2 linked regions of the Homo sapiens genome follow. The protein of the gene in region 1 purifies or fractionates together with the protein of each later gene. This does not show direct contact. Each region holds a gene or a part of one and is shown in the gene's direction. Other genes may lie near its edges.

The links.
Region 2: the proteins of PARP6 (region 1) and RPRD1A fractionate together in Homo sapiens (co-fractionation; one large-scale study listed by BioGRID). This does not show direct contact.

The regions. Positions count from the first base shown.
Region 1 is NC_000015.10:72,251,915-72,255,741, reverse strand, and holds part of PARP6 (protein mono-ADP-ribosyltransferase PARP6), read left to right. Parts: intron 1-1,221; coding exon 1,222-1,287; intron 1,288-1,671; exon of another isoform or gene 1,672-1,792; intron 1,793-2,237; coding exon 2,238-2,305; intron 2,306-3,827. UniProt on the Homo sapiens protein: Mono-ADP-ribosyltransferase that mediates mono-ADP-ribosylation of target proteins.
Region 2 is NC_000018.10:35,991,861-35,994,805, reverse strand, and holds part of RPRD1A (regulation of nuclear pre-mRNA domain-containing protein 1A), read left to right. Parts: intron 1-1,505; coding exon 1,506-1,655; 3' UTR 1,656-2,945. UniProt on the Homo sapiens protein: Interacts with phosphorylated C-terminal heptapeptide repeat domain (CTD) of the largest RNA polymerase II subunit POLR2A, and participates in dephosphorylation of the CTD by RPAP2.

The DNA.
Region 1 (3,827 bases):
AGAAACAGAGCCAATAGGAGATATATATGGAGAGAGAAGGAGAAAGAGGTTTATTATAAGGAATTGCCTCACATGATTATGGAGGCTGAGAAGTCCCAATATCTACAGTTAGCAGGCTGCAGACCCAGGAGAGCCAGTGGTACAGTGGTAGTCCCAGTCCCAAGGCTTGAAAAATCAGAGAGTGGGCTGGGCGCAGTGGCTTCTGCCTGTAATCCTAGCACTTCGGGAGGCCAAGGCGGGTGGATCACTTGACTGGAGTGAGGAGTTAAAGACCAGCCTGGCCAACATGGTGAAACCCTGTCTCTACTGAAAATACAAAAAATTAGCCAGGCATGTTGGTGGGCACCTGTAATCTCAGCTACTTGGGAGGCTGAGGCATGAGAATCGCTTGAACCCAGGAGGCAGAGGTTGCAGTGAGCCAGGATCGCACCACTGCACTCCAGGCTGGGTGACAGAGCGAGACTCTGCCTCAAAAAAACAAAACCAAAAAATCAGAGCCAATGGTGTAAGTTCTAGTCTGAAAGCCTGAAGGCTTAACATCCAAGAAGAGCCAATTTTTTTTTTAGTTCAAATCCAAAGACTGGAAAAGACTGATAATCCAATTCAAGCAATCAGGCAGGAGGAATACCTACAAACTCTACAAACTCATGGCGGGGTGGGGCAGAGGAGTCAGCCTTTTTGTTCTATTTAGGTCATCGATTGATTGGATAAGGCCCTTCCACATTAGGGAGGACAATTTGCTTTACTCAGTCTGCTGATTCAAATGTTAATCTCAACCAGAAACACCCTCACAAACACACCCAGAAATAATGGTTGACCAGATGAGTGGGTACCTCATGGCCCAGTCAAGTTGACACACAAAATTAACCATCACAAGTACCCAGCATAGTACCTCACTATTACTGTCATTACTATACAGAGTTCTTTATATATGATATTTAATCCTCAGAACATCTCTATGGGGGTGATAGGAGTTATCTTCACTTGCATAAAGGGATGCTAAAGGTTCTAAGAGGCCAAATAACTTACCCTGTTACTCCCAGCTGGTAAAAGAGAACTAGCATGTGCCCCTAGAACTGTCTGACATTAATGCTCTTTCCATGACATACTATTGTTTCCTAGGGCCTAGACTTTTTTGGTACATCTAGCCCCTTTTCATCACATCTTACTTTCCTCTACTTTTCTTTATTTGGTTCTTCTCTTCCCATTGATTCTCCACAGAAGAAGAATTATGAGCGGCTTCAGAAAGCTCTGGATAGTGTGATGTCTATTCGGGAGATGACCCAGGTATTCTGCCTTCTCTCTGTCCCCTCTCCTTTGCCTGCCCAGTTCAAGTGTCCTATTCTGTTGGTAATTTGTGGGAGTGGGATGAAGATTTAGAGATGCTACGCACTGTATTTTTTTTTTAGTCTTTCCTCTTTAACCTTCCCAATTCCTGTTCTCTGTTTTGTTAGCTCTGTTACTCCTCTTTATTCTCTTTAGTCTTTGTGTCTCAATCTTTACCTTTGCTGTTAATTCCTTTACAAGTTGTTCATATTTAATGTTTTGCCATAATTCTTAGGGAGTTAAGAAGTGAAGGAAAGACCTCTGCCCAGGGTTGGGAGGGTGAGGAGGAGGGGGGCTTGAAGGTAAGGAACTAGACACAGGGGCCTACATCTTCTATCCTTCTAGGGGTGGGGCAGCCACATGGAGCGGTGACCATCCTTTGACTCAAGGCTGTCCCTCACCAGACTTCCCCACCCCTCGTCTGCAATCTCTGCATGAATAGACATTCATTTGTACTCATTTACAGGTGGGCCTCTTCTCAGCAAATCCTGTATATCACAGTTGAGATTTACACATAAGATACACCTAGGAGGAATGATTTACTTGTCAGGAGGACGCTTTGCATTATTTAAAGATTTACCACAGGATTCCTTAGCCTAATCTTCTTGGGACATTGATTTTATTTATTTTTTGATTTATAATCAACTTTTTAGGGCTGTAGGAATTGCATAAAATGAGGGAGACCCACCTGCATGTTGTTTTGTAAGCATCTTCAGTCATTTTCATATTTATTTATGAGTCTTCCCAGCCTGACTAGGGCTCCTTGAGGGTGGGAACCCTATCTCCTTTTTCCTCTGTGTGGCCTTTGGTGCCTACCTTGCCCTGGACCCTAATAGTCACTCTGTGAAAAGCAGAAAGCAGGTAGGCTCCCACCTCTCCAAGGAGATAACGTTATGGCCATTGTCTTACAGGGCTCATATTTGGAAATCAAGAAACAGATGGACAAGTTGGATCCCCTGGCCCATCCTCTCCTGCAGTGGTATGGATAGAATGGCTCATCCTTCTTGGGTTATGGGGAGGGAGGGAGTTATTGGACATGGAACCTGTACCTTCTTTTAGTGGTGGTTTCAACATCCTTCCCAAGGTTATAGGCAGTAATGGGTGCTTTTTCTTGGAGTTTGTTGGCATACCTTGCCTTGAAAATAACACATCCTACAAAACGCCCACAAATTCTGACATGATTTTTCTTTCAAAAAAATTATTTTTAATCTTATTTTAATTGTTTCTTTTTTTTTTTTTTTGAGATAGGGTCTCACTCTGTTGCCCCGGCTAGAGTGCAGTGGTGCGATCATGGTTCACTGTAGCCTTGCCCTTCAGTGCTCAAGTGATCCACCTCAGCCTCCCCAGTAGCTGGGACCACAGGCATGTGCCACCACACCCAGCTAATTTTTTTTTTTTAATAGAGATGGAGTCTCCCTATGTTGCCCAAGCCAGTCTTGAACTCTTGGGCTCAAGTGATCCTCCTGATTGGCTTCCCAAAGTGCTGGGATTACAGCTGTGAGCCACGATGTGCAGCTGACATGATTTTTCAAGTTCTCTTTAGGTGTTCCATGTTTCGCAATAGGTTTTGTTGTTTGTTTTCTTTTTTGGTTTGTTAATTTATTTTTTAAATTGACAGATAGAAATTACAGGGCCGGGTGCAGTGGCTCACACCTGTGATCCCAATACTTTGGGAGGCCGAGGCGGGCGGATCACCTGAGGTTGGGAGTTCGAGACCAGCCTGACCAACATGGAGAAACCCCATTTCTACTAAAAATACAAAATCAGCTGGGCATGGTGGCCCATGCCTGTAGTCCCAGCTACTCGGGAGGCTGAGGCAGGAGAATCGCTTGAACCCGGGAGGCGGAGGTTGCCGTGAGCTGAGATTGCTCCATTACACTCCAGCCTGGGCAACAAGAGCGAAACTCCGTCTCAAAAAAAAAAAATTACATGTATTGTGTACAACATGATGTTTTGAAATATGTGTACATTGCAGAATGGTTCAGTAGAGCTAATAAGCATATGCATTATCTCGCGTATGTATTTTTTGTGGCGAGAACACTTAAAATCTACCACAGTGATTTTGAAGAATATTACACATTGTTACTAACTATAGTCACCACCAATAGGTTTTTGTGTCCTTTGCATGTAGAAATTAACACTGTTAATTTCAACTAAGTTTTCTTTGCATCCAGAGACGTCTGTCTCCTCCTGCTATCCCCTTGCCCTGTCTCTGGGCCTCCTTGATGATATAGAATGTCCAGAGCCTTGAGGCACTATTGCTGTGCTCTTCTCCTAGCCAAGATTTTGACTGTCCCTGCTGCCATCCATTCCTGATCTCAATTTCTATTGTTTTCCTGACATAGCTTTCCCTTTTTAGTTTGCCTCCCTCTTCCTAGTCAGCCTTCAGTACTTCCTCAGTGCAACAGCTTTCTCCCTCTTAGCCTGAGGAATAACCAGGCATAGACCATCTGAGGTGGCATCACAGGTACATAGATGAGGCACAAAAAACAAAGACAACA
Region 2 (2,945 bases), on another chromosome or scaffold:
AGGGGCAAAATGATTGAGAAACGTTGTAGATTATTTATATAAACCTAAGTGGCTCATACTCTTCTCTTGGTTTTAGCTAGAATTTGTCAGTTATAAAGCCTAAATCTTTATTTGTAGCTCAGAATACTGTAATCACATTTCCAAGTGCCTACTAGAAATCCCATGGATAACTCACAGTTATCATGCTTAAAAATGAACTCTGTATCCTTCTCCAAAGGAGTTTGTGCCCCTCTCTGCTATCTCAGATAACAGCTCCGATATCCACCTGCTTATGAAGCCTGAACCCTCATTATTCCTCACAGCAGAACCACAACCAATTCCTGCTGATTTTTCTTTCTAAACATTTAGTCTTTGACATTAAGGTATTATTTACATATAATGTAGTTTTTAAAGGACATTGCTCTATCCTTACTACTGTTGGTTTGGTTCGGTTCAGGCCCTAGTCCTTTCTTTCCTGGAGAGTTGCAGTAAACTCCTAGCTGGGTTTCTTCCTTAGATGTTTCCTCATCTATGCACTCTCTAGGATGGTCCTCTCAGGACTTACCTGTGACCACATTTGGAAAGAGCGTGAATCTCCCTGCCTTGTGCCATGCACTGTGGTAATAGTGAATTGCCATGGACATATCTATTTTACTGCCTGCTACTTCCTTAGACCAAATCTTTGAGTCAGGACCCTGGAACTGAGATGGGTATAGTGGGAAGCTTTTCTCTGAGTGATACCCTGTTGTGGGTGCTGAGCTTTTGGAGAAAGGGAGGGGTGCAGCAGCCTGAGGTTGTCTTGGCTTGCCTCTTCTGCTGTGGAGCCACCTTCCTCATGAGTTGGGGGTGAGGCTTATCAGGGCCCAAGTATTCTCAGTCCTCCACGCATAAGAAGGAACTTCTTTTCCAGGAGTGGGGGCTGGACAGGAGGGAGTCCCCAGGCTCTTCCCTGCTCTATCTCAGGACTTAGCTTCAGCACCAGGTAGTTGGGGTAGGATGAGAGGCGCTCTTTCTGGGAATAAAACCCTCCCACTGGGAGTTGCAGGGAGAGTGATCCTGTATTCTTGGCTGCAGCAGTCTGGAGTGGACCCTCCTTGCTTAGATGGGAGGGCACAGGAAGGGAGCAGTCCTGCTTCAGACACCACAGACTCTGGCCATTCCTACTGAGTTTTCATAGATGTTCTTGCCAAATTTTAGTTAAGGTTTATGAAAATAAATATGTAATTTTTCTTGCCCAAACTCAAGAATACCTGAACATCTTATATGTCGAGGTTAAGCACATTAATGTTAGTCTTCTTTCTACTGGTGTGAAGCAACAGCTAAAGATTGTGGTTTTTCTTAATAATAATAGTTTACTAGTTATATATTTCCAAAGCTCATCTTTTGATGTGAAAACTCACACTGGAATAACCTTTTTAAATATGGCATTAACTGAGTATATATAGTACCTGGGTTTATGTAGGTCATTATTAGCTAGGAAGTTTTTTCAATCCCTGAATGCTAATGAAAGTGGTTTGATGTTACAGGAGTACAAGCGCAAGCTAGCCAGAGTTTCCCTGGTGCGCAAAGAACTCAGGTCCCGGATCCAGAGCCTGCCAGACTTATCTCGATTGCCCAATGTCACTGGCAGCCACATGCACCTGCCCTTTGCGGGAGACATCTACAGTGAAGATTGATGGACCAGCCTCTTTCCAGGTCCCAGGACTTTGCAAGAGATGGAGACAGGTTAGGTGGATAGTCCTGTAGTGTTATTTTTGTATATTGTTGAGAAAGAAACACTAACAAAAGGAACAACGAGTAATTTATAAAATTGTTTAAAATGTTGGTTTGTTTACTATTTTATTGGTAAATTAACATGACTTAATTTGAACAAAGTGATGATTTGTGTGTATTAATAAGCTCACAAATAGTGATTATTTTCAAAAGATCTTTTTGTAAATTTTTTTTTTGATCCAAGGCCTTGTGAGAAATCTCTTGTTTGTATTTCTTCAGGTATTTTCAATTGTTTTTCTTTATTTTCTTCAGCATTTAATCACTGTATACTATGTAATTCCTGAAGGGGAAGAACTAATTAGGAGTTGATTGAGACTTTATTATGGTATAGTTAGGACTTGATTGTAGAAGGGACTAAATGTTCCAACATAATCTTTACCCTTCTCCCCAAACAAAATATCAATTCTGTGTCTCTACATGCCTTTGATTCCTTAGAGGTCGGTAATTTAACATAAAACAGGGATGTCACTTTGAGGGGCAGATGAAAGTCTAGAGAACTGTTCCTTAATAGCATTGTAAAAGTTCCATTCCAACTGCCAGTGTAGATTTTAAAAGTGTTAAATAGTGACTCCCTTGATTAAACTGTTTGTAATTATTTGAGTAGATTAATAATGAAAATACTTTGGAAATAATATACATTTTGACATTCTACCAAGAGGACAACTTTGGTTCTGGAACTGGTTTCTATTTGTCAAATCAGTTTCCTTTTAACATAATTAATCCCTTTAACAAAAAGCCGTCTATGGGATTAAAAGACACGTGAAATGATACTTTTATTATTCCCTTGCTCATATAACTTTAAAAATAATACTTTTAGCTCTAATAGCTCAAGAACACAATATTCGTTAATGTTCAGTAAAGTAGCCTGAGACATTTTCAATGTTTCCTTAAGGTTTTTGAATGACTGTATATTTGGCAGTTAAGCAGTGCCACACTACAGGGTAGATATGGTAAATTTTATATTTGTATATTTACAGTTACAAAACAAATGTACTTTTACCTTTTATTTCTGACCCTGTGTGTTAGAGCAGTTGCATGCTCTCCTGCTGTTAAAAACACATTGTTAAGCTGTGGATTTGTACTCAATAATGACTTAGGATAAACATTTATTTTCATTCATTGCTTTACATACTAGACATTTTTCTTCTCTTTGTAAGTAGATTCAAATTAGATAGTCAATAAAACATCTTGAA